Homo sapiens: one gene and its partners. The protein of the gene in region 3 purifies or fractionates together with the protein of the main gene of each other region. This does not show direct contact. Each region holds a gene or a part of one and is shown on either strand. Other genes may lie near its edges.

Region 1 (9,480 bases), on a different chromosome or scaffold from region 3:
TTTCAACAAGGAAACAAATGGCTTTAGAGACTGCCCTTTTTCCTCTATCAATTTCAGGCTTTAATTTTTAATTAACCTTAGCTTTCAATGAAAAAACCAAGTTCACATGCATTTCAACTTCCACTGAGCCAACGTTTTACACTGGGCTCTTACGATAAAATCTGGGATCAGAGTATATGCCTCTAAATTCTTCCAGACGTTTCATTAATCTAAGAGAAAGGCTGCCTTACATAATCATATAGTCTAAAGCTATATTATGAATGAAGTCATCCACCTAAAAAAAACCCATTTTTTAATTAGTTAGATGCAAGTTAGGTCAAAAAATGTTTCAGCCTTCAAACTAGCTCTTAAGAATTATTACCAAAACATGTAAAAATATGCCAGAAAAAAAAAGAGAAAACCCTGAGAAACACATGCCATAAAAATTACCTTCATACTCTCCATTTCTGTCAGCTCAATTTGAAGAGCCAGCATCTCTGAAGACATGCTTTCCTGCACACGTTCAGACATTACGCGCAGTTCCTCTGATTTACAAGAGAGGAGTTCCTTCTGATGATCTACTTGGTGCTTCAGCTGCTTTTCACTAAGCCTGGCTTCATCTAATTCCACTTTCAGTTTTTCTATCTAAAGCCAAAAAAAAAAAAGTCATAAATTGAAAGTTATTTTCTTTCTAAAAACAATCACTGATTGAACTGATTGAACCAAACTTACTGAATGATGATACTATTGGAGTTTCCTATTTGCCCAAGGTTAGGCATCTTTTAACAGCTAGTGACACACCTTGTTTAATAAACATAGAAATAATCCATGAGTAATCGGGGTGGGTCTGGATGCCTCAGAAGCAATCTGGAGGCACTATGATGCGGACCACTTGGCTACTGTGTGAAGAATGACTGGCATGAAGAGAAACAATGGAAGCAAGCAACCTGGTCAGAAGGCTACAGCAGTAGTCCAGGAAAGAGATGATGAAGGTCTGGATTGGAGTGGCAGTAGCGTCATAGATGTTTTGTAGGTCAAGTTCTTAGAACTTGATGAATTAAATGTGAAAAATAAGAGAAGAAAAGGTATTAAAAAAATCCAAATTTTGGCATAAGTGATTTGAGAAAATCAGTAAAACAAAATATTTCACTAATGTACTCTTTGCTCCACCAAAAAAAAAAAAAAAAAAAAAAGCCATCTCTATAATTAGCCTTACCTCAGTCCTGAATACTCCCTTTATTACTCTTTTTTGTTTAGGTGATGAAAACTATTGCAAAAATAAAAATAACAACCAGAGGGGGAAGAAAGCACATCATTATCAGTCATTAGGGCCTCAAATCCGACTAGTTTCAGACAAGCTGGATGATATTATCTGTCAGAGTGGTATGCAAGATGATTATATATTACATGAAGGTATATTTAGATAGCTATGTTTGTTTTAGTGTATACTGGGAAAAAATAAGCAAGCTTAAATATGTAATTTTGGCCAGGCGCAGTGGCTCAGGCCTGTAATCCCAGCACTTTGCGAGGCTGAAGTGGGCGGATCACGAGGTCAGGAGTTAGAGACCAGCCTGACCAACATGGTGAAACCCTGTCTCTATTAAAATACAAAAATTAGCTGGGCGTGGTGGCGCACACCTGTAATCCCAGCCACTTAGGAGCCTGAGGCAGGAGAATCGTTTGAACCCGGGAGGCAGAGGTTGCAGGTGAGCCGAGATCATGCCACTGCACTCCAGCCTGGGCGACAGTGTGAGACTCTGCCTCAAAAAAAAAAAAAAAAAAAAGGAAAAAAAAATACTTTCATTGATGTTTCTTAAAATCAGTAAACATTAAAAGAGAGTCAATGAGAAATTAAGTAATAGTATAGGTGGTATACAGAAAAAGAAAAATCTTAGAGGCTGCTATACAAGAAGCTGAAAATTGGGTAACAGACTTCTGAGAAAGGAGGACAAAAGTCAGGCAAGTTTTGGTAGACAGTGTCTGGAAAAGTCAGAGTATAGACTATACACAAAGCAGATCCATGATAAAAAGTTCTGGATTCCTCAGAAGCAACCTGAAAGCACTGGCTAGCTGGGAAAAGGGAAAACCACTGACCAATCATTTATCTTGCGTTTATGTTTGAAATGGAGCCAGTGTAACATGCTGTTAGACTATGTAGTGATTCAGTAACACAGCCTTTGGAGTCAGACAGCCTCAGTTCAAACCTAGATGGAGAATTTCTAGTTCTTGAATTGTGTCCAATTTACTCAGTCTGTCTAAACACTGGCTCTTTCATCTGGTATATGGAAATGATAATGGTACCTTTCCACAATATTATTGTAAGAACTGGAGCACATGTATTAGTTTATCCTCAGTAAACAAACTATAAAGTGTCATTTGTAATGCACATTAACTAGTAAGAAACTACTGGTCTGTTTTACAGAATTACAAAGCATACCACTGACTGCAGGGAAGGCTAGGAGACGAGGCTTTCTGCAAGGGGCTGCTGTACCCACTATCAGCAAGGAGGCCATGCTAGTCACTAAACTAAACCTTCACAAATATCCAGCAACCAAAATTAAATAATTGTATTTAATTAATAGGATATAATTTATACAAGTCCCTTAGACAAACTCTTGTATCTCAGTGTTCCCACCCCCAATATTAAGATAATGAAGACTTAGATCTTGGCTATTTTGCAAAGCTGACACTTAAGAAAATCTTTATCATCTAAAGTTTACAGATGGCTGCATAAATATGGAATATTTTGTGCTGAAATACGCAGATATCCCAACCTTAGTTTTTAGTTCATTCACTTCCTGTCCATGGCTTCTGCTTAGTTGTTCTTCCAATTTCTCCAGGTGCATTTTTTGTTGTTGTTTAATAGCTTCACATTCGCAGCTCAAACTTTCTAACATTCGACTCTTGAGTTCAACTTCTCTTTGAAGGGTATATTTTTCTTGTTCATAACTCTGAAAACAGATTCAATTACAATTCAATTACATAAAAATAGCCTAAAGCCATTACATACAATCAGTTTTCAACTTCAATTGTTTCATTCTTATTTCAAGCATTTGCTGCTTTCCAAATAACGAAGACATGTTAAACCTGGAATAACTTTGTAGTTAATCAGTCTTAATAAACCCCTGAGGTGTATTTCGAAACTATGTTAAACCCATGCAAGGGATACCTTACTGCTTCTGTGCCTTGTCAAGGAAGTAAAATGTGCTCCATGGTATGTCAACACGTCAAGTCAAGTAATCTCTGCTAACAACAAAAAAAGATTTAACAGCACTTAAGCTTTCCTCATGAGAATTATTAGTTTGATAATGAGATGCTCTACTTGTAGCTCTGAACACAATGTAGTAGTAATAATAGTTGAAAAAAAAGAAATACTGAATTAGCCTTTACTTTCAGAATGTAGTCATCTGAGAAATGTCACAAAAGGTCTATCAGAATGAATGCAGAGCTGAGACAAAAGGAGTAATTAAAAGGGCTTTTGCTTACTCACAGGGAAGTTTAGACATTAAAAATGTTACAAGTACGAACTCCTTCAAGAGGCTTTAAAAAATGATAAAATATTCCCCTCAAAAACCATTTTATTTTAAAGGAAGACAAAGAGTATTAACTGTTAAACACTGAAATTTGACAAGTTATGACTCAAAATGATTAAGTATAACAGTTTTATTTTCTATTAGTGATATTTGTAATCTTTACTTTGCCTTTATGACTTTGCACTCAGTTCTTGGTTTACAACAGTACTATGTAGAAACACAAAGGTTGCCATCACTAGTTATTTTTACCTGCTACAGATATTTTTTACCTGCCATATTTACAATGTTGAGATTCAAGTTTAAATATGTTACTGAGCATTTGCTAAATTACCCAGATTTATTCATTCATTCTTTTAAGAAATAATCGTGTGGCAGGCATTCAGGATAGTGAACAAGGCATACAAAATTCCCTCTCTCATGGAGTTTATAATCTAGAGATAATTAGCAATGCAGATAATTAAGAGTGGAATCAGGGCCGGGCACAACGGCTCATGCCTGTAATCCCAGCACTTCGGCAGGCAGATTACGTGAAGCCAGGAGTTCAAGACCAGCCTGGTCAACATGGTGAAACCCCATCTCTACTAAAAACACAAAAATTAGCCGGATGTGGTGGCACACATCTGTAACCCCGAGCTACTCGGAAGGCTGAGGTAGGAGAATCTCTTGAACCCAGGAGGTGGAGGATGCAGTGAGCCAAGATTGCGCCACTGCACTCCAGCCTGGGCGACAGAGTGAGACCCTGTTTCAAAAAAAAAAAAGAAAAAAGAAAAAAAAAGTGAATCAGGGCAACTTTACATTACATAGTAAGGGCTGACCTCTCCGCTGAAGTGACATTTAAATGAAAGCTGAAATCTGAGGACTCAACCCAAGAGCAGTGAGGGGTAAACAACTCAAAAAAAAAAAAAAGGCAATAGCTGGTGTAAAGCCCATAAGGGAGGACCAGTATAGTCAAGAACAAGGCAAAGCAGTTTGAGGTGAGGTCAGAAGCTTGGCAGGGGTCAGGTCACATAGGGATCTACAAACCCAAGGATGGAGCTCAGATTTTGTTGTAAATAAAATCAGAAGCTGTTGTATGGTTTTTAGCAGGGCTGTGGCATGACCTTTGGTGTGTTATTCCACGACCACTTAGACGCTGAGTGAAGAATGAATGGCATGAATGGCAACAATGGAAGCAGGCAACCCGGCCAGAAGGCTACAATACTTGTCTAGGAGTGATGATGGTGATCTGGACTACAGTGCCAGTAGCAAAGATACATGCTTTGTAGTCTAGTTCTTAGAACTTATTAATGAGTGAAATGTGAGAAATAAAGGGAAGATATTGACTAAAAGTTCTAGATTTTTGGTATATAAAGAAACCAAAAATATACCAAAAATCTTTGGTATATAAAGATTTTTGGTGTTCAAGAAACTGAATGCTATTATATTTACTAAATAAGCTAAAAAAAATCGTAAAAGAATATTTGGTTAACGGACAGGGAATCCACTCTTCTGTCTGTGTTAAGTTTGAGAAGTCTATTAGTGGGCAGTTGAACACAAACCTAGATTTCATGGGGGAACTAAGGGCTTGGTGTAGTGTCATGGGGCACTTAGATGTTTAGAGGTCTAAAACAAGTGAGGTCTTCTAGGAAGTGTGCAGACAAAGCAAAATCTGGTAGTAAATGTGGCAAAGAGAGTAATGATAACTTGATCTTTCAAACTCTGAATACACTAGGGTGGAAAGAATAACAGGAATTCATTTAGTTCATTCTTTTTTAACAGGGACGGGGCAGGGCGGGAACTAGATCTAAAATCTTCAGAAAAGAATAAACTACTACTACTATTAATTGCTAAACAGGACAAATCTTCAATAGCTAAGCACACTCTTGCAGACAGAGGAGTCCAGAGTCCTACCTCAGTCATGGTCATCATTTCATTACGACATTTATCCAATTGATTCTGTAATTCATTTTGACTCTCTACTAGTTGTAAACCATACTGTGCAGCTTTTAGTCGCTCTTCTTCAGCCTCTTTGAGCCTGCATCGAAGATTTGTGATTATATCTGCCTCCATGTTCTTTTCTTTTTTTTAGCCAACTGTAAATAGAGGAAATAAAACTACTTAAGCTTATACAAAAAACTCCATGCAATAATATCAATAACAGAAGAAACATATCTACTCAATACTACTGTCGTATAAAAACATTAAAATTTTCTTCCTGACTAATAAGTAGTCAAATTTGCATTCTTGTTCCAAGAGCAAGAACTGTTCTGACAATTCTGTTACTGATTTGGGATCAAAAATTAAAGAGTGGAATAGAATACATTTAATTTTGCTTCTAAACAGTTCACCATCAGAAAACTGTTCAGTTGTTGTATGCTAAGCTTCCAATATGTTAAGGTAAGTTTGGTCTCATAATTGGACCACTATCCATATAATCAAAATTAAGGGAATAACAAAAAAGTAATCAAGAAACCTCATAGTAGCAGGTATGGTGGCTCATGCTTGTAATCCCAGCAACTGGGGAGGATTACTTGAGGCCAGGAATTCGAGACCAGCCTGAACAACATAGCAAGACTCCATCTCAATCAATCAATCAATAGAAATAAGGTGGGGATGGTGGCAAGCCCCCGTAGTCCTAGCTACTTGGGAGGCTAAGGAAGGAAAATTGATGGAGTTAGAGGCTTCAGTGAGTTATGATCATGGCACTGACAGAGCAAGACACTGTCTTGAGAAATAATAATGATAATAACAATAATACCACCAGAAAAGGAAGGTCTGGGTACTATAAACACATAAAATATAAAAAGGCAGCTGTGAATAAGGCTCATAAGGTAAAGTAAGAAATATCATGTCTGTAATTTTTCACAACAGTGTTAACTTCCTGAATATATTAAATCTGCTTTCCTGGAAAGAGATTCACTAGTATTTTTCTAGTTATTCATAAAAGTATGCAAAAATAGAAACCATATCCATAAGAATTAAAGGATGTTGCTTTCATTCTAGATTTATAAACAAAGACTTAAACATTATATATAGAAACATTCCACTTTAATCAACCTTACTAATTATCCTTTACTATTTGGTCCCAGCCTCCTAAGCGAGACTCAAACTCACCTTTGCCTTCAAAGGGCACCAGGTCATTGCAAGATGTTCCCCCATGTCTCAAGTCAATGTAGTCATTCACTGAACGAGTATTTCTTGAATGCCTTATATACTAGGTTCCATTCTGGGCAGTTCAGATTCATTAGGGAACAAAATGGACGAAAAAAAAGCTCCTCCCTCATGAAACTTACATTCCAGGAGGGGAAGATAAACAGTAAGTAACAGAATATTAATAAATTAGAAAGGGGAGATGAGAAAAAATAGAACAGAATAAGAATCTGGGAAGAAGGGACAGGTGATGTAACCAGGAGGCAGAAGATGAGAGAATCAGCCAGGCAGCTATTTAGAAGAAGAATGTTCCAGCAAGAGGGGAATCCTTAAGGCAGGAAGAAGCCCAGGGAGTGAAATTTGGCTAAGAGATAGTAGAGAGTGGGCAAATCAGGCCATTATAAGGACTTTGGCTCCTACTTTGGGTGACATGGGAAGTCATTCCAAAGTCTGGAGTAGAGGATCTGATATAATTTAAAAGAATCATTTTGGCTGCTATGTTGACTAGTTTAGAAGGGGAACAAGGCTGGAAGCAGAGACCATGTGAAATGGCTCAGACTAGGGTGGCAGCATAGGAGGCTGTGAGAAATGGCCAGATTTTGAAGGTTTTGAAGGTAAGGTCAATATGATTTTCTGAAAGATATAATTTGGGATGTGTGAAAAAGGGAAAAGTAAAAAATGCCTCCAAGTCTTCTGGCCTGAGCACCTAGTAAAATGGAATTGCCATCAGCTGAAGCACTGATGTAAATAATGTTTTGGAAATAAAATCAGGAATTTGAGTTTTGAACATGAACTATGTCAAGTAGGCAATTGGATATATGAGAAGAGGAATCTTGGCTGGATATGCAAATTTGAGAATTATCAGTCTATAGAGGATAAAAGTATTTAAAGAGAAATGGACCAACGACTGAACCCTGTTATGAGGTAGGGAAGAAGACAGCGGAGAATCAGGAGTGACCAGTGAGGTAGAAGGAAAACCAGGAGTATGTGTTGTCCTGGAAGGCAATAAACAGTGTATTAAGGAGGTGGGAGTAATCAATCATGCCAGATGCTGCTGCTAAGGCAATTAAGGTGAGAGCAGAGAACTGGCCATTGAACTTGAATTCCTGGAGGTCTCTGGTGACAAGAACAGTTTTGATATCCAGGTGGGGGTGAAAGCCTAACTAGAATGCCTTCAAGAGAGAATGGTAGGAGATAAAGATAGCAAGCACAGGTTTGCTGCAAAGGATAACGGATAAACGGAGCAGCAGTTGGAGAGGAAGTAGGGACAAGTTTTTTTATTTTTAAGATGGAAAAAAATAACAGTGTTTGTAGGTCATGGGATAAATCCAGGAGAGAAGAAAAACTGATGATCTAGAAGACACTGGAGAATTGCTAGTGATGTCCCTGAATAAACAGGATGAAGTTTAATGTAGAGACTGGTTTTAATAGAAGCATGGATATTTCATTTAAGCAAAGTATATGAGTTTAGATGCTGATAAGCAGGTACAGTGGTGGAAGTCTGTGTAAGTAACCTTTTAACTGCTTCAATTTATCAATGAATTAGGAAGCAAGGTCTTTAACTGAGAATGAAGACAAGGGAAGAGATACAGGGTTTAAGAGAGAAAAAAAGGTGTTCTAGGTAATCCCAGCTTGGCAGTCACTGCTCTAAAATGCAAGACCTTTTCAAAGCCTGTACATGATACGGCCAGCCAACTAAATGTTGTACTGTTCACAATAACTTACATTCGTTGAGGATTTACCATTTGCCATGCTAACTGCTTCAAATATATTATCTCATCTAATTATCTTGATGAGCTTGAGTTAAGTAAATACTGTCATCTCAACTACCAAAATAAAAATAGGGTTAACCTCAAGACATTCCAGCCAGGCATATCCAGAGAAGCCAAAAAAAATTTGCTTTAGTTTATTCAAAAAATTTGCTGGAATTCTTATTGTGTGAGACATTGTGCTAGTGTTGACAACACAATGGCAACCTAAAACAATATTCCTGTCTTCTTGAATCCTAGTCTATTAGTAAAAGACATTAAATCAAGTAATTGAACTATCAAGTTACAAGTATGATAAGTGCAAGAGAGACAGATGTATGCTACCTGAGCCTGTAACAAGGGGGAGCTGTCCTAATCTGGGGGGCAGCGCGTAGAAGGGAACATGGACAAAAAAATTTTCCTGAGGAAGTAACTTTTCAGCAGAGGTCTAATGGATGAGAAAGAGTTAACCTATCAATCTACAAAGAGAGATAGCCGTGGTTGATTAAAAACTACTAATGTGTGACAGACATTGTGCTTGGTGCTTTATACACATTCTTTTTTTTTTTTTTGAGACGGAGTCTCGCTCTGTCGCCCAGGCCAGACTGCGGACTGCAGTGGCGCAATCTCGGCTCACTGCAAGCTCCGCTTCCCGGGTTCACGCCATTCTCCTGCCTCAGCCTCCCGAGTAGCTGGGATTACAGGCGTGAGCCACCGCACCCGGCCGCTTTATACACATTCTTATTCAATCTTCTCAACAACTTCAAGAGGTTGAAGGTATTTCCCTCATTTTACACATGCAAGCTGAGGCATAGAAAGTTTTAAGTAACTTGCTTAGGGTTACCCGCAAGTTAAGACGCGAAGTGTGATGGGAACTAGAATCTACCTAGAAACCATGGTGCTGCAACCATTTTTCCTGTCCTGCTTCTCAAAAATATAGCACACACAAAGCATTTGGGACACAGGAAACTCTGGGAATCAAACTGCCTGAGTTCTTACCCCGCCTCCACTACTCACTGGCTGCATGAACTTGGACAAGTTATTTAATTTCTGGTTTAATCATCTATAAAAACAAGCACAATAACACCCAC
Region 2 (7,953 bases), on a different chromosome or scaffold from region 3:
GGTCTGTACAACAAGGTAGCCACTAGCCACATGTGGCAACTGGGACATGAAAAGTGACTAGTACAACTGAGAAACTCAATTTATTTTTTTAATTCAAATTTACATTTAAATAGCCAGTATGGGTCTAAACAAGTCTTTTTTATTAAAAGCAAATGAAACTATATTGTCACATTAAAACAAATGGAGGTATATTGATGAAGAATACAAATCTTGCACTAATTTTAATTTTAGATACTGAAATATAATTAAAAATGTTAACGTGCTCTTTACCACACCCAACCAACACTATCCATAAAGATAACATTTATTAATAATTTGTATATATCCTTCCAAACATTTTCTATGCAGACACAAACATTCACATTAACTTTTACAAATAAACAGATAAACTTCCCAACCACAAGTGTAATAGCAAACTTGGGAAAAATTTGAGAAGCACTGTTATTCATTATCCCTTGTTGAAAATTGGAAAACCAAGAAAGAATCAATTAACAAGGCAATAGTGTGTCAATGGCAAAAACCAAAAAGAAAATCCTGTATCAAGAATATGTAAGATCAGTTTGTCTCTTTTTAATTCAACCACCTCATCTCTAAATACTAAGTCTTCAAAAATCTATTTATTCAGGGCATACAGAGGACCATAGCTTAGGTGAACAGTATGGTGTCACTACATTAAAAGACTACAGCTGTCTACTTATCTCTAATGAACATTTCTTCAAGTATATCTCTGGACTACACCAATAGAAACTAATATCTAAATCATTTCTAACAGAATCAGACGCCAATATACTCCAAAGGCAATTAAAAAAAAAAAGCATAAGGACTGCTGAAATATAAACATTTACCCATAGCAGAATTTTTTTTTTAACAGTATAGGAAGTCTATCAACATCTAGAGACTCAGTATAAATGACGGAACTATCATAATTCGAGATGTACTGGGGGCAGAAAAAGTCTGAGAACCCCTAATGTAGAACAACATTGTCCAAAATAAAAGTTCAATAATCTTCCATGTCCAATGGTAGCCACTAGCCACATGTGGCAACATGGCTAGTACAAACGAGCAACCAAGTATTTAATTTTATTCCATTTAAATTAATTTAGGAAACTTCCAACTTAAACTGCTTGGGGTTTATGTTGACAGAGTGGAGCCAGCGGTACCACCTGGAAAGAAAGCAGTTCCTGACAGAGCTAACCAGGCTCTTCCAGAAGTGCTGGTTGTCCGGAGGGAAGTATAATGGTCAAACAACCCATTCCAAGAAAGGGTTCTGTGAAGGGCTTTGAGCCCTTAGACAAGTGTCTGTTAAAAGCTACTGATAGAACAAGGAAGATCAGCACTATGCTGAGCTCCAAAGACATTTTCAGATGGCTTATTCAAACCCACTGAGCTAACTGATGGACAAGGGAAGAGTAAAGCATCACAGGGAAGGGGGCCAAATTTCCTGCTTTCACTAACCACTGAATTCCTATTTTTCCTTTGGTTTTTACTTTTGGCCACAAAGCTAGTTTCTCCATAGTTACTGTTTTCCTGTGAGATTAGGGTCATTCTAGACAGAAGGACTACAATGTTTACAGGGTAGTTGTGGTAAGAAGCCAATTTATTTTAGATTTAGCTAATTGGTCTGTGCTGAACGATTCCAGGATTATCGTTTAAAAGTCTCTGTAGTAATCTCTTTGAAGAGCACTGTATCATTAAACCTATTTAACAGCAAAAAAAAAAAAGTTAATTTGAACTTAAATGCAAGAAATTAAAAATTGATAACTAAGATTTAAGATGTTCAAAATTTAAAAATTACTACATTATAATCTCCAATAAAAATCAGGAAGTCATCCGAGCTACTCGGGAGGCTGAGGCAGGGAATTGCTTGAACCCGGGAGGTGGAGGTTGCAGTGAGCCGAGATCACACTACTGCACTCCAGCCTGGGCAACAGAGCGAGATTCCGTCTCAAAAAAAAAAAGTAAGTAAAAAGTAAATTTAAATAGCCACACGTAGCTAATGGCTACATATTGGACAGTGCCGATCTAAAAGGATGTATGGTAAATATTTTAACCCTCTTAGAGCTTATATTTACTAGAACAAGCTTTATAACCAGAAACTAATTCGATTTTCTACAGAAATAAGACTTCTATTTTTTCCCATTTATGACAATATACGCTCTTTCCCACCCACCCTCAAGCGTTCTCCATAGTGAGTTTCCCGGGCTCACTGAAGATTTTCACATTTAAGGGGGAAGGAAGAAGTGTCGCACTCACATGTGTCCAGGGCTGCGGTCGGTGGATTCTGCCATATACTCCATCGTTCTGTATGCCTTAAGTTCTTTTAAAAAAAAAAAAAAAAAAAAAAAAAAAAAAGAGAATGTTGGGATTTAAATCACTTTACCTAGTCTCCTCTTTTTACGTCTTCCTCCAGTCTCTCTGAATAATTAATATATTCACAGAACTTCGAAAAAGCAGGAAAGAAGGAAACCCAACTCCACTGGGTAAGTTCGTTAAAAAGAACTTTAAGATGAGGACCATGGGATTTCCTGAGCTTCCCAGCTGCAAGACCCTCGGGCCACCCAGCTCTGCCGCTGACCTCCATCTCACCTGGGCTCCAACCCTGGACGACCAAGGGCGAGGTCAGCTCGGGATTGTGGACGCCCGGGCCCTCCCGCTCTCCACCAGCCCAGGGACCGCACCGGACCACCGCGCCTCAGACCCACGCCACAGGAGTCTCCGGACGGCGTCCCGGCGCCCGAGGGCCACCCACGCCGACCCCCAACCCCGGGGCGCGACCGCACACGGGTTCCGGGCACGCGGCGCTCACGCAGACTGAGCACGGCCCCGAGGCCGGGGAGCCCGCCCCATCCGCTACTCAGGGGCCCGCGGCCGACAGCCCAGGTCTCGGACTCCGGAACCTACTTCGCGCCTCCAGACCAGCCCTGGATTTGCTGAAAACCCGCAACAAAATAGACCCCGGCTGTCCCGTCAGCTGCCAACCTGGCTGTCTCCGCCACAGAGAAGATCTCGCGAGCGAAATGCTCGAAATCCCGCGGCCCGAGTGACGTATTAAAAGGGACGGGGTGGGGACGAGGAAAGGGGCGGCACCGACGGGCGGAAGGGTGATGGGAGCGGCCTGGTGGCTGGGAAAGCTCGCGGAGAGAAGTCCCAGGGGCTCATTTGCCGTCAGTGACTGCTTTTCAGTTATCGTCTCGATTTTCCCAGGCCAGGGTTTACTCCAAACCAACCTCGCCCGTATATTAGTCTCTTTTCAGCTATCCCGACTGTGAGCTTGCTTCTTGATTAAATGATTATTTTATATAAAAGTTATCTGTAAACGGTACCTTATGCAAAGAAACTCCATCCAGGGCAGTGCCTTTTGTCTGTTTGGTTCACCGTCATATACAGGCCTGATGCCTGCCACATGCTAACTGCTCAAATGATTATTTGTTGAAAGAATGAAATGTAAAGCATAATTATCTGTGAAGAAGTCTATGCGATTTTTAGACAAATTATTAATTATGTGCTTCCGGATAGTGCATTTAATATCTTCTTATGACTGATTTATCCCTCAAACTTGGAGCAGCACAGACCGTGTCTAATCTGTCTCATGACAGCCTTTCAAATATTTGAAGAGTACAACCATTTTTTTTTCTAAATCCTCTCATCCCAAATTTCAAGGAATAAGCAAAGGCGTTTTGTAGAGGGTGATCAGAGACAGCCTCTCATCATTTCTTGCCCAGAATACTTAAGTAGCCTCTCGTCTGTTGTCTCTACTTGTAGACTTCAATTCATCCTTCTGAAATGCAGTTCTGATTTTGTCACACTCCCCTGCTTTTAATCCTTCAGTGGCCTCTGATTACCTTCAGCATTATTTCCAGTTTCTTTGTGTGGAAAGAAGACCTTTCAGGATCTGATCTCCACATATCCTGTCCTACTCCCAAGCACACGTACTCGCAAGCCATGAAGACCAACTGGCAGGTCCTCACAGAAAATAGTCTTCCTTTGCTTCTACCCGGGACTCGGCACTAAAGATTAAGCCTGAATTAGTTTCCTAGTGCTGCTCTAACAAATTATCACTGATTTAGTTGGCTTAGAAAACACAAATTTGTTCTCTTCCAGTTCTGGAAGCTACAGGTCTAAATAGATGGTGAGGGCTGACTCTGGAGGCTCCAGGAGAAAATCCATTCCCTGGCCCTTTCCAACTTCTACACGCTGCCCACATTCCTTGGCTTGTGGTCCCACATCATTTTGCAGTCAGAGTCTCCTTTTCTCACCCCCACCCCCCCGCACCCCTCTTACAAGGACACTTGTGATTTCACTGGGCCCAACCAAATAATCCAGAATAATCTCTCCATCTCAAGAAATTTAATCACATCTGTAAAGTTCGTTTGCCATGTTAGGTAATATATTCACAGATTTCAGGGAATAGGACATCTTTGCAGAGCCATTATCCTGTCCACCATACATCCTCTCTTTTCTGACTCCTTCGGTCCCTAAGGGCCAGAGGAGTTACATGCTCCTTCTGTATATATGGTTCTATGATAACACCTTTATACGAGGTATATGCCTCTATAATAGTGCTTTGAATTGGATCATAAATTTTCTACTCTGCATGCCCAGCAGTTTCAAAACCCTGGAGAGCAATTCGGGTCTTGTTCTTCTTGGTGCACCTAGCACAGCAGCTGACACAAAACAGACCCTCAATATATATTGGTAAATTAATTATCCATTTAATACCCACCACAACTCTGAAGAGACAGTGTTTTTCTCCCCGTTTTTTCTATTCACACTGCCTATGCCCTCAACCAAACACCACTAGGAACACAGCTGTAGTTAAGCAGCTTCTGTCTATTTATTACTCTTCGAAGTGAGCCCAGACACTCACCATGGATACCCTTTGGGTATCTCAGTAAGAGGGTGTTTAGAACAAACCTATCATAGGATTGGGGCTTTGGGCGGGTGTTTTCGGGGAGGCCCTAAGAAAATAGAGGTTTTTCTATAGATTGGATGCTGTCAGAAAGCAGGGGCAATTCTGTGATTGGATGTCTCAGTAAATCTTATTTACACAAAGGGAAGCAGGAGGATAAAGCTGCAATTAGCAAAGAAGTAGCAGTCACTCATTTTGGTGAAGAAAGGGAATGTTTGGTATTTTGTGGGTGGCATAGTGAACTTATTTTGGTCTGTGCTTAGACAAAATTATGAAGTGACCTTCTTTGCCTCATTTTATCATGGTTTCAGAGTAATCTTGTCTGAGTTTAGTATTCTGTGAAATTATTTCTGTCTAATAGGAAAATATTATGGCATAGCTGCAAGTACCAGACCAGCTTCTAAATGTCAAAGGCTGCTCATTTTTTAACACATTCCTTCTACAATTATTTGATTTGGCTCTGAATACCAGGCTTCTTAAGCACTTGATGTATGATAATAACAGCACAGATATGGTCCCTGCCCTCATGGACCTTACATATTACAGATGAGGCTGGATTAGATTAGGCAATTTGTTGAAAGTCCTATAGCAAATAATTGATAGAACTGGGACGTGAAATACAGTTTGTTTCTGAACCCAGACCCTCACCATAGCAGCCTACCTCCCCTTCTGAGGCTGAGGCCGTCTATTCCTATCCACAACCTTTTGATAAATGAAATACTTCTGTAGTAGAAGGCACCTATATTTCTCTCTTCATCTGCCAGCCCCCACCACTAAGATTTCCAGATGTCAAAAGTAAGTTCTTGATTTCAACTACCTCTCTCATGAGCCTGAATGAGCTTGCTAGGATTGGACTGAGTGGGATAATATTGGCAAACAATACCAGAGGGAAACTCACTTTGCACTTTTTATTTAACCTCAAATCTCACCTGAAAATAATAGGTGAGATTATTTTCAGCTCCCATAGTCCTTGCACTGAGGATATCTATCTGTATTCAAATCTAAGCCTTAGTATATGTTTACAAACTTCATTTCTATGTGTTTAACCATGGTATTAAAATGGAATTCCTGGCCGAACATAATGGCTCATGCCTGTAATCCCAACACTTTGGATGGCCAAGGTGGGAGGATCGACTGAGGCCAGGTTATCCTGGACAACATGTTGAGACCCCCACCTCTAAAAAATAAAAAATAAATATAAAACAATCAAATTAGCCAGGCATGGTGGTATGCACCTGTAGTCGTAGCTACTCAGGACACTGAGGCAGAAGGATCACTTGAGCTTAGGAGGTCAAGGCTACAGTGAGCCAAGATTGCACTACTGCACTCCAGCCTGGGTGAAAAAGGGAGACCCTGTCTCAAAAAAAAAAAAAAAAATCTGCTAATCAATGAAATAATGAAATTCTACACAGAACTTTCAAATGCATACTGTGATATTTTTCACACTATCAAATGTGATAGCACATTTGGGGATATCAAGATAATATTGGAGATTAGTGCAGGGGAGGTGTATTAGGGTATCCTCTTAGAATCAACACCTGTGGAATAGAAGGGCAGAAGCACCATTGGGCAGAAGGGAGCTGTGCTGCCGTGCAGTCTAGTGGAAGCCTCAGCTAACCCTGTGGGAAGCTCTGAAGCTGAAATGACCATTCTGAGTTTTCCCGAGGGGGACTTTGCTCATCGATGAGTCATTGGATGTGACTGTCCCAGGAAAAGGACATAGCATTGGGTGATATTTCTCTCTTCAGCCAAGGCAGTCCCAGAAGTAGATGAAACTGAGGGCTTTCTGCCAGCAGCACTCCCTGCTGTTGTGGGATAAGTACTTCATTCCTTGAGGGGGATCTGGGCAGTACCTCACAGCCACAGCATGCGCCATGTAGAAAGCAGTATGCCTAGGAGAGTCGGTGGAAGACATGGACTCTAAAGTCCTTGTTTCAAGTCTGAGATTTGTGACTGATAGATTCTGTGACCCTAAGGATTTGCTTTACCACTCTGAGCCTTTCTAAAAGCTCCTTTCCTCCTTTCTAAAACTATGTAATAATCCCTACCTCAGAAAATTGTTATGAGAATTGACTGAGATAAGGTACATAGAAGTGTTTAGTAAACTGCAAAATACTATAATGATTGTAGGCCCTGTTATTCTCTGGTGAAGATCCTTAATAGGAATTGAGTGAAGCAATAAGAAATGGTTTGTATCTGAAACAGCCAATGTATCAAATTTGAAACATTACACCTGCGATTCTGCTTCACCCTTAATTTACAATATAAAGACATCATTTAGTAAATGAAATAAAAATTTAGTGTTCACTTTGTAAAATTTGTTAGGGGTAGTGAATATCTGAGTTACTGGTGGCAAATAGATACAGGTCTGCAGCAACCTCAATTCTTGCCTTCTCGGCAGAAAGAATTTGACTGAGGGGCATAAGGCAGAAAAAGAGACTGAAGCAAGTTTCAGAGCAGGAGTAGAAGTTTATTTTAAAGCTTTAGAGCAGGAAAGAAAGGAAAGTACACTTGGAAGAGACCCAGGCAAGAACTGTGGAGGTCAAATGTGGTGTTTGACCTTTTGACTTGGGGTTTTATATGTTGGCATATTTCGGGTGTCTCCGCATTCCTTTTTTCATGATTCTTCCCTTAGAGTGGGCAGCCCACATGCATGATGCTGTCCTTGCGCTTGAGAGATGAGCAGGTGCAGTGTGTTTAAGAAGTTGTATGCATGGCCACCTGAGGCTTTTTTCCCTTTTCCGGTGGAATGCTCCCGGAAGGTCATATAACCAGTTAAAGTCTGCCATTTTACCTTTCAATGTACATACTCAAGCCCACTCGCCCAATTCCTGAGATTTTATTGGAAGTTGTTGATTACCAATTTCAAGTGTTTTTATCCATTGGGAAATTGCCTCTCCCTGGTGCCTGCAACCAATTATTATTTTTAGAAAGGTGATGTGACAACTGCCAGACCATCACCTGATGGTTGCCTGACATTCCTGGTGGGTAGGGGAAGCCCTCTCCTGTCCAGCTCTTGCCTAATTACCACTGTAACAGATTCA
Region 3 (10,647 bases):
ATAGGAAAGAACCTACGTGATTATTGGGGCAGGTCCCCCGATAGAGTGGCACATGATGGGCACAGGGCAGGCTTGGGAAATGGGGGGCCGTAAGGCCACAAGACATGTGGGCAGGTAGCCCAGAGTGTGTCTGGAACATCCTGTTTATTGGTCGGCAGTGACATCTACTGTCACATTTGAGAACTGCATCCACAGCCACATGACCTCCTGTGAAGACCTCAGGGCAAACTGGGGAAACCTGCCCTTCTTGGAAGGTGATACTAGGGGGGATGAGCAACACCTTTCTTGGAGGTTTGAATTCTTCAGGGCCCCTCCAGCATCTTGGTCTTCCTAATTCCTCCCTTGATCCCCCAGCCCTAGGGGTGGTAGCTTCTTGCAGTGTTTACCTCCGTGTTAATCTGGATTCTCTCTGTCTTCGGAGTTCTCTAATGCCTGGTTACCAATTCTTTATATCAAGTTCTCTCCGTTAAAATCATTGTGGTGGGGTCCATCCCATGGATATACATGGAGGTCTGTGTGACAATGTATAATCTTACTATTTGCAGTTATTACAAAACTGTCCTAGAAGACATGAATGCTTGTTAAAAGAAATCTTTTAAGTTTCCTAGACTTCAAAGACCGTTGCTATGCCCTGTGAAACATCGCCTATATCCTTTAACAGTTTGCAATTCGAATTGGTTACTTACTTAACATTTTGTTGCCCTGGTGATACAATTATGTTGACTCGTTATTGTGAGGTTACTTTGTTATTAACCATGATGAGGATTACTAGCACATACTTTTACTCCATATGTATAACACAACAATGTAGTAAAACCAATAACTCTTGGTTCTCTATTCAAAGTGTTTGGAATCTTTATTCTGTTTAAAACACTGATGACATTTGCCAATTTTTGAGTGTTCTTCATGTTACTGATTTGTAGGAGCTCTTTATATATTGCAGATTTAGTCTCTTACTGGTTATGTATGCTGCACCTGAGGAGTAGCAGCACTGCCAAGGACACTGAGTGTCTTGTCTGTGCAGAGCTTCACATGAAGCTGGAGAGAAGGGACTGGGGCAAGAGGGAAAGATAAAAAGGGGCAAGTAAGTAACAGAATGAATCCTTGTTGCTAATCTCCTGGCCCCCATCCCAGACCCTTCAGGGGATCCTGGCGATTCGAAGCAGCATAGCCTGATAGGCCTCTGGTGAGGGTGTTGGGAGGGTTTTCTTGGCCGCCTGTTCCAGGATGCTCAAGATGATGCTGTGGGCCTCCTGGCATAGCTCAGCACCCAGGAAAGCCTCCACTCGTCCACGCCATGCTGCCAGTCGTGGCCGTCCCTCAAACAGTTCATAGCCGAGAGCCACCGGCTGTAGGGACAAGGATGAAAAAGTTGTGGGCATACAACTTTCCCAGTTGTCACTGCCGACCCGAATGCTGGAACCATGGGCAGAAGTATCAGAGACATGGTCCATTCCCCAGCCCCTAAGTGAATGGACCACAGGGGCCCAGGCAGTATGTTCAGCCTTAGAGCCCAAGAGCAGCCAGGGTGAGACCCCACACCCAGGCAGGAGGCAGAAGTTCAGGGTTCTGGCCCCAGATCATCCAGAGACTTGCTCTATGATTCTGGGCAAAGTTCTGGCTTTCTCCAGGCCTCAGTGTTTCTGTCTGCCTCATGGGTGTGACACGAAGAGGGACACTGCCCACAGGCTGAGCTCACACCTGCATCAGCTCCTCCAGGGCCATGAGATCAGCCAGTGTCACCTGCTGGCCAGCGAGGAAGGGCCTGTCCCCCAGGAACTTGTCCTCCAGCCATTGCAGGGCCTGGTCCATGGCAGTCCTGTTGCGTTCCACCTTCTCCTCGGGCACCTGGACCCCAATGAGTGGCCCCAACACCTGATGGGGGCAGAGAGTGGGTCAGTCTATGGCCCCGGCCTACTGCCAACTACTCCCTGATGGCCAATCACTCTCCAGATGGCTCTCCTCACCTGGACCCACAGGGGTATACCAAAGGTGCCACGGATGCAGTCGGCATGCCAGCCCAGGTACTCATGAACACGGGCACGAGCCTGCAGGTCAGATGGATACCAGTGGTCCGGCGTCTGGTACTTACAGCTCAGGTAAATCAGGATGGCCGAGCTGGGAACAAATGGGCAGTGGCTATAAGGACACTGGCACCAGGCATTTACCCCTAACTGCTCCCATCTGCCAGTGGGGCCCGGGGGCTTCTCTGCATTTGAAGGACTGCCCTCCAGCCTCGCCCTCCATCTCCAGCTCCCCAACACCACCCCCTCCTCCTACGAGTCTCCTCCTGTCTTTGTTGCCTTGGGCACCGACTCTTGGCTGGACCTTCTGCTTTGCATTTTGAGAACCTCATCTCTGTGATATGCCAGCAGCCGCCCTGTGAGGTAGACACTCCTGTTAGCCTTTTAGCACAAGAGAAAACTCAAGGTCAGAATGGTCAAGTGACTTGTCCGAGGCGGTGCAGCTCAGAATAGGCTCCCTGGACCCCTGGAACCCTGCATGGGGCTGGCACACAGTGGATGCTCCGTGGAGTCCCTTGCATGTCCACGCGCTTGGGTCAGGGATCACGAGGGGAGGAATGTCTTTGGCCCCCGTCTGACAGGCCCCCAGCCATCACTTCTGCAGCCACCTGACCTCTTGTCCTTTTCCTGCCCAGCAGCTGGACCTCACCATGAGCTGTGCCCTTGGGCCATGGCATTGGCCTCTAGGCCCGGCCTGGGTAGATTGGGTAGTCTGCAACAAGTCACTAGAGGCTCTTTTCAGCTAGCATTTGTTGAACAAATGCGCAACAGTGGAAAAATGTTCCCTTGTCTTCTCTTCTAATACCCTTCAGTCTGGGAGTGGAGAGGCCCTGCGGCTCAGAAAAGGCTGGAAGATGAGAGGTGGGGGGACATGTTCTGTCAGCCCCTGCTCATCCCGGTCACACCCCAAGCTGTACCTTCTCCCCAGATACCTCTCCTTTCTTTCTTTCCTTTTTTTTTGAGACGGAGTCTCCCTCTGTCGCCCAGGCTGGAGTGGGCTCCCTCTGTCACCCAGGCTGGAGTGCAGTGGTGCTATCTCTGCTCATTGCAAGCTCCGCCTCCTGGGTTCACGCCATTCTCCTGCCTCAGCCTCCCCAGTAGCTGGGACTACAGGCGGCCGCCACCACGCCCTGCTAATGTTTTGTATTTTTAGTAGAGACAGGGTTTCACCGTGTTACCCAGGATGGTCTCGATCTCCTGACCTCGTGATCCGCCCACCTCGGCCTCCCAAAGTGCTGGGATTACAGGCGTAAACCACCGCGCCCGGCCTTTTTGAGACGGAGTCTAGCTCTGTCGCCCAGGCTGGAGTGCAGTGGCGCGATCTCAGCACACTGCAAGCTCCGCTTCCTGGGTTCACACCATTCTCCTGCCTCAGCCTCCAGAGTAGCTGGGACTACAGACGCCCGCCACCACGCCCGGTTAATTTTTTTTCCATTTTTAGTAGAGACGGTGTTTCACGGTGTTAGCCAGGATGGTCTCGGTCTCCTGACCTCGTGATCCGCCCGCCTTGGCCTCCCGAAGTGCCGGGATGACAGGCGTGAGCCACCGCGCCCGGCCAGATCCCTCGCCTTTCCCCTCCCTCGCTGCCCCATGGGGTATGGGAGGGCCACTGGGGCCCGGGGCCAGTGGGGAGAGCCAAGGTCACATGGGCTCCGGATGCGGTGAGGGGTGAGGGAAGGAGGGCACCTTTCGGTCAAGATGAAATCACCATCCTTGAGCGTCGGCAGTTTCCCCAGGCTGTTGATCTGCAAGAACTCCTTGCTCTTGTGCTGCCCTGAAGAGGAAGAAGTCAGAAAAGGTCTTCAGAATAAAAACGCTGCACCTCTACACCCTCCCTCCTCCTCCCCAAGCGGAGCCCCACAGCCCTGAGAAACAGCAAGGTCTGGGACTAGAGGCCTGGATCAGCCTCACTCCCTGGCTGGGCCTCCCTGCCCTGCCACATTCCGGGGCAGCTGGGGGGCTTTGGTGGGTGGGGCCAGGTGCAGCAGGTGGATAAAGAGAAGTTTTCTAGCCGGACTCTGGTGGGCCAGGGGAGGGGAGGCAAACTGGGGTGGCTCATCTCTTCCCATCTCTTAATTCTCACAACAGCATGTCCTTCTTCCCAAGGTCTTCTGGGCTTTGTGAATTTATATGCGTGCATTCCACGCAAGAACTCTGTCAACTCCATTCAGTATTTTCTTTCCATCCCTACAGAGCAGAAGGTAACATTATCCTCCTTTTCAGAAGGCAAGCTAAGGTTCAGAGAGGCTGTGATCCCTCCAAGGCCACTCAGTCCACAGCATTCTCTGGTGGCAGACGCTGCAGGAGGAGGTGAGGGGGCTGTGCGGGCGGCGAGACGCTCAGGGCAGAGCAGGGCGGGGGCCTGGGGGTGCACTGGGTTTGTGGACACGCGGGGAAACGGGCTGGGCCCACCTTTGACCAAATCCACGGTGCGCAGCTCTAAGGGGATGCCATTCTTCTTGGCGAAGATGTAGACGGCGCGGCTGGGCTGGGACACCAGGTCAAGAAACAGCTCTAGGCCCATGGCGGGGGCGGCAAGGACAGCGGGGATGGCAGTGAAGGCGCTGAGCGCGGTGTGGGCAGCAGCTGTGGCAGGATCCCGGCGCGCCGGGAAATAGGGGATCAGGCCCCACCCCCTGGGGACAGCACCCAATTGGAGCGCACCACCCCCGGACCCGCCTCGCCCCTTCGGTTCCTGTCCAGTCCTGCCGGCCAAGACTCCACCACCAGATCCGTGCGTCCCTACAGGGAGGGCGGTCGCTATGAACGCACAGCTGGGAGGGTGGAGTTGGAGCTGGGGACCCTCGACTGGCAGGGAGGACGCGGATGCAGGGGGCCGACTGCAAGGGGAAGGGGAACCGGCTGGACAGGGAGAAGCAGGTCTGCTTTTCGGGATCCCGGTGCCAGGGACCCTGCCCAGTTCCAGGCGTCGCCCTGACCCAGAAACGACTGGGCGCCGCCGTCCTGGAAAGGCCCCAGCGCACGGACATCTGAGGGTTCGTTCAGAGCTCTGTTTCTCGGCGCTGCATGGTGGCGGAAGGGAGGGAGCGAATGGGATCCCCTAAAAGGGATCTTAGAGTTTCACCCAGTGGGATGTGACACTTGCAGGTGTCCCAAACTGGTGGGAACCTTGACTGGAAGGCTGGGGTTAAGGATGAACTTTCTGCCGTCCAGACTGTCCCCTGCAGAGCAGCTGCTGCCAGACAGCGGGAGCTGCCAGACAGCGGGAGCTCCCACTTCGTGCACAGGATGGGGGCAGGGAGCCCGCAGCCGCGGGAGGCAGGAATGACTGTCCGGGAACCTCCTTTCTTCTCCCTGAATCCCAGCCCTGGCATCTCACCAGGGGGCACAGTGATGGTCCAGGGCTGGGCCCGGGACTCTAGCTGAATCTTTCAGAGTATCCCATCCCTCTGGCCAGTGGCCCAAGCGAGTGAACCAGAATGCTTCCTTGGGAGTTTTGAAACTGGAACTGGAGAGAGGAGCTCCCTATGGGGAGGTAAACGGGAGCTGGGGCCACCTGTAGTGACATTTCCTGAGTTCGAGGAGTAGACGAGACTGAGAGAGAAAAGCTGACTCAGAGAAAGGGAGTGATAACAGGGCATGCTGGCCCACACCTGCAATCCCAGTTACTCTCACGGGATCTGTTTCTCTGATGTCTGGGTATGAAAGGACTTTCTAAGCCTCAGAACAGTGGGAGAACTCAACAAAGAAAAAACCAATACATATACAAGGTTACTTTGTGGAGGAAAAAATGGATTAACCTTAAGCAAAAAACTGGGAAGGATCTCGGTAAAAGATACGTCAGAAGGAAGTAATGTCCTTTAAGATGTTCTTAGAAACCCATCAGACAGGTAGGGTGTGGTGGTTCACGCCTGTAATCCCTGTACTTTGGGAGGCAGAGATGGGCGGATCAGTTGAGGTCAGGAGTTTGAGACCAGCCTGGGCAACACGGTGAAGCCCCGTCTCTACTAAAAATACAAAAATTAGCTGGGTGCGGTGGCACACTCGGGAGGCTGAGACAGGAGAATCACTTGAACCTTGGAGGCAGAGGTTTCAGTGAGCTGAGATCATACCACTGCACTCCAGCCGGGCCACTGAGCGAGACTGTCTCAAAACAAACAAACGAACAAACAAAAAGAAGAGAAACTCATCAGACGAAGACACAGGAAAAAAATGAGCGAAGGAAATCAGCAGAGGTTTCATTGAAGGACAAAGAGAAATGGTCAATACATGGATGAAAACATGTTTAACTTCAGTAATAATCAAGGAAGCACACACCAACACAACATGCACATACTGTTTTTATTTATCAAAGGCACACATATTTTTGAAATGAGTACTCCTAATTAATATGTACAGAGCACTTACCCAGTGCCCAGCACAGGGGTGGCACCCTGTGTGTGAGACAGCATGAAACAGGTAGACACGCGCCCTGCTGAAAGTAAGGGACCGCCTCTCTGGAGGATCCATCGGGCAATAAGGAGGTTTCCACACCTTAACTGTGTCTGCCTTGACCTCTGGGGCCTGGGAGCAGAGCCCCCTCCAGCTGGTGGGGAAGGAAGCGTGGTGTGTTTGAGGACAGAATGGAGAGAAGTTGAGTAGAGCAAGTGTAGACTCTTCCTATCCAAAGTGTGGTCAATGGACTGGGAGTATCAGCATCACCAGGGAGCTTGTTGGAAATGCAGAGGCTCAGGCCCCACTCTGACCTTACTGATTGGGAGCATAAACTGTAACCAGATTCCAGGGAGGATTCATACACACATTCCCGTTTGATAAGTGGGGGGTAGTAGGAGGTGAGGTGAAAAGTGGGGAGGGGATGGCTACCGCACTGGAGAAGGCTGGCTTTGTGTTGAGGCCTTTCTCATGAGGGCAGTGGGGAGCCATGGAAGGCTTTATGCAAGAGAGGGTACGGGCAGATTGAGATTACAGAAGGATCCCACTGGTTGCCTTGTGTGAGGACCCAGGGAGAAGGGGGAGGCTGTCCCTGTTTGAGTAGGAGATGAGAGCTACTGGTGGCTATGAGTGGAAAGAAGTGAGCAGAGGTGAGCAGAAATCCCAAGGACTGGTGATGATAGGATGATGGTGGGAACCAGGATGGGCTTTGGGCAGACCCTGACCCCTCTCTCTGCCTGTCGGCCCACCAGATAATAATCCCTGTGTTCCTGGGCGAGTCAGTGCCACCCGAGATGTTGGCGGCCACTTTGGCTGAGCTGGACGGATGCTTGCAGCTGCTCGAGGACAAGTTCCTGCGGGACCAGGCCTTCCTTACTGGGCCCCGTATCTCTGTGGCTGGCTTGGTGGCAATCACGGAGCTGAGGCATGAGAGTGCCATGGGGTGCGGTGGCCCGCTGGGCAGTGGTGTATCCGGGAAGGGAGCTGACATCCCAGCTCATGTTGTCTTTTCTGGCTGTGGGACCCTGTGTGAGTCACTTCTCCTTCTGAGCCTCAGTGTCCTCATCTATAAAATGGGGCTTTACAAACCCCTCACCGCAGCTATATTAAGAGGCTTCCAAGTGTCCCCAGGGAGGGGGACATCCTAGCCCATCACACACATGGTGGAGGAGGGAAAATCCAATCAGAGAACCCCTAAAGCAGGTCATGCTGCCTTACACTTGGCTATGCCCAGCCCCTCCGCTGACTCTGTCTTCCCCTAGCCCATCAGTGCTGGCTGCTGAGTCTTTGAAAGCGGACCCACGGTGGCAGCATGGTGCCCAACACGTGGAGGCTGCAGTGCGGGAGGACTTCTTCCAGGAGGCCCTCCCAGCTGTCCTGAAGGCCAAGGACCTGCCTCCAGTAGAACCTGCTGTTAAAGAGAATCTGAAGACCTTAATGCAGCTTTTCTTGCTGTGAGTGCGTGTCCCACACTTGCTGAGCCACTGAGGGGATGCTGTGTTGGTAGAATAAAGACATGGAGCTGTCCGTCTCCTTGGTTGAAGAGAAGACATATCTGCAAAGGCTCTGGTCCACAGTTCCTCCAGATATCATGCCTGCATTCCTTTTGTCTCCTACCCCATTCCATTCTAGCTTCCATGTGACCTCTGAAAAGAGCTTGGGCAAACGCTTACTTGACCCTGACCTTCTGTGTGGAACTTTGTATGGTTCCTCACTGCCCAGAAGCTAAAGTACAAGTCATTGAACTTTGCATTCAAGGCCTTGCTCCCACTCCTCCAGGTGGCCCCTTCTGCCTGCACACTCCTAACCCCTCTCTGGGCTCCCACCTTGGCCTCTTGGCCTCCGCTCATGCTGTTCCCTCCTCATCTTCGCCTGGTGCCCTTCCTGGTCTTTTGGCATTTGGCACCCTGTCTCTTCTCCAGGGAGACTTCCCTGACCTCCCCAGCCCCAGTCCAGGTCAGGCGACCTCTCTGGGCTCCTCAGCCCCAGTGTTTCCTTGCGGGGGATACCCCCGGACTGAGCATGTATCATCGATGAGGGGTGACCTGGTGGAAAGATGTCTGAATCAGGATCAGCCTTGGTCTCCTCGGTCTCTCTCCTCACTGTGGGGCGATGTTGTGTTCCACAAGTGGGGTGCAGGGCTGGTTCATGAACCTCCTTGCAGGAAGGGAAGTCCCTGGTTATTTCCTGGCCCTCTCCCATGCCTCCTCATAACCTTGACCACAGTCTTCTCTACACCCCACTCCCGGACCACTGGCTTGTCCATGCCCCACACCTGGTCCCAGACTTGCCACCTGTCCCTGCCCTCTCCCCTTAGGACTGTCATATTTACCTGTCGTGTGTCTCAGACCTTCTGATATCTGAGTCATCTAATAAACAAACTGCTAATAGGACAAGATCATGACAGACAGAGACTCTGTCGGCCTTTCAGTGGAGGCTCCTTTAAGTATGCACACTTATAGAGAATTTTATACACGTAGTTGAAATTGTACATATAAACTTGCAAATTTTTTCTTTCTTTTTTGTGGGGGAGGGGGGAGCCTGGGTCTCACTCTGTCATCTAGGGTGGAGTGCAGTGGCACAGTCATAGCTCCCTGCAGCCTAGATCTCCTGCGCTCAAGCAATCCTCCTGCCTCAGCCGCCCAGGTAGCTAGGACTACAGGCACACACCACAGCACCCAGATTTCTTTCTTTTTTTTTTTTTTTTGTAGAAAATAAAGAAGAGAATCTTGCTATGTTGCCTAGCCTGATCTTTAACTCCTGGGCTCAAGCAATCCTCCCTTCTTAGCCTCCCAAAGTGCTGAGATTACAGGTGTGAGCCACATTGCTCGACCACAACTTCAATCATATTTGTAATGTACAATTCAAGTGATTTTGCCACACTGACCACACTCATGTTTAAGCCACGCCAACAGAGTTCCATGTTTTCTGATGTTTTTTCGAGATGGAGTCTCGCTCTGTCACCCAGGCTGGAGTGCAATGGCGCGATCTCGGCTCACTGCAACCTCCACCTCCCCGGTTCAAGCGATTCTCCTGCCTCAGCCTCCCGAGCAGCTGGGATTACAACGTCTGCCACCACGCCCGGCTAATTTTTGTATCTTTAGTAGAGACGGGGTTTCGTCATGTTGGCCAGGCTGGTCTCAAACTCCTGACCTCAGGTGATCCGCCCGTCTGGACCTCGCAAAGTGCTGGGATTACAGGCGTGAGCTACCGTGCCCGGCCTTTCCATGTTTTAAAGAACATATTTTGCCACCCCCTGGTGGACAGTGGCTCACCACCGGCACAAGAGGCTACACAGGCAGATGTCAATGGGGACCAGGCAGGGACAGGTATTGTCGTGAGCCTAGCCCTACCCGCGCCCCCGCGAGTAACCACATCTCCTGACTGCCCAAGCGCAGATTTCCATACTGAACATGAAATTGCCTGACTTCGAAATGGTGGCAAATCATTCAAAAAAACTTTAAGCTCCCGTTGTATTGGTTATTAGGGTCGAGCCTGGGGAAGACCCCTATAGGTGTGTGTGTGTCCTTGTGTGTCGGGGGTGTGGTGTTCAGACCTCTAATAGGGCTAGGAACCGGGCGACCACAGCGCGGAAGCTTGAGAGGGAAACCCACCTGGCGCCAGGCAGGAGGGTCGGGGGAGACAGGGTGGGTCCACTACCGGGTTAAAGACCTGTAGTGGGTGGGGCTACACGTAGGGCGGAGACGATGGGACTTCCGGAAATCAGCCGGCACACGTGACTTTTGTTTGCAGAAGCGGGAGGTACCCTAGGCAGCCAATCGGGGAGCGCCGAGTCTCTGTCCAGCCAATGAGAAGCCAGGTTGCTGTGGCGCCTCGCCCCTCCTCCCTGGTCCGCGAGCCTTGGGTACCCCCAGCTTTTCTTCCGCCAGAGCTGTTTCCGTTCCTCTGCCCGCCATGCCGTTCCTGGAGCTGGACACGAATTTGCCCGCCAACCGAGTGCCCGCGGGGCTGGAGAAACGACTCTGCGCCGCCGCTGCCTCCATCCTGGGCAAACCTGCGGACGTAAGCGTGGGCCGGGCAGCACGGGGCGAGGGGAGGTTGGTGGGCCAGGGGTCCGGCCCTGTCCCTGCTCCGCCTCCCCGACAGTGACCCCGAATCTTTTCCCCAGGGACCACTCCCCACTCCTTTCCTCACGCCAAGCTCTGACTTTCCGTGCTCCACGATCCCGCGGCTCCCCCTCCGCACGTCTTTCCCTTGTCGCCCTCCCCAG

Evidence for each region.
Region 1: the proteins of GSTT2B (region 3) and SPDL1 purify together in Homo sapiens (affinity purification with mass spectrometry; 2 studies listed by BioGRID and IntAct, with this or other methods). This does not show direct contact.
Region 2: the proteins of GSTT2B (region 3) and NMD3 purify together in Homo sapiens (affinity purification with mass spectrometry; 2 studies listed by BioGRID and IntAct, with this or other methods). This does not show direct contact.

The regions. Positions count from the first base shown.
Region 1 is NC_000005.10:169,584,498-169,593,977, reverse strand, and holds part of SPDL1 (protein Spindly), read right to left. Parts: intron 6,780-9,480; exon of another isoform or gene 6,606-6,779; intron 5,606-6,605; exon of another isoform or gene 5,585-5,605; 5' UTR 5,562-5,584; coding exon 5,403-5,561; intron 5,380-5,402; exon of another isoform or gene 3,149-5,379; intron 2,931-3,148; coding exon 2,754-2,930; intron 625-2,753; coding exon 430-624; intron 1-429. UniProt on the Homo sapiens protein: Required for the localization of dynein and dynactin to the mitotic kintochore.
Region 2 is NC_000003.12:161,216,358-161,224,310, reverse strand, and holds the start of NMD3 (60S ribosomal export protein NMD3), read right to left. Parts: upstream 3,001-7,953; 5' UTR 2,902-3,000; exon of another isoform or gene 2,587-2,901; intron 2,318-2,586; 5' UTR 2,298-2,317; coding exon 2,254-2,297; intron 1-2,253. UniProt on the Homo sapiens protein: Acts as an adapter for the XPO1/CRM1-mediated export of the 60S ribosomal subunit.
Region 3 is NC_000022.11:23,956,584-23,967,230, forward strand, and holds GSTT2B (glutathione S-transferase theta-2B), read right to left. Parts: upstream 4,613-10,647; 5' UTR 4,549-4,612; coding exon 4,437-4,548; intron 3,799-4,436; coding exon 3,711-3,798; intron 2,119-3,710; coding exon 1,968-2,118; intron 1,876-1,967; coding exon 1,702-1,875; intron 1,350-1,701; coding exon 1,140-1,349; 3' UTR 831-1,139; downstream 1-830. Other genes in the region: DDTL (D-dopachrome decarboxylase-like protein), read left to right, coding at 10,332-10,439. UniProt on the Homo sapiens protein: Conjugation of reduced glutathione to a wide number of exogenous and endogenous hydrophobic electrophiles. Has a sulfatase activity.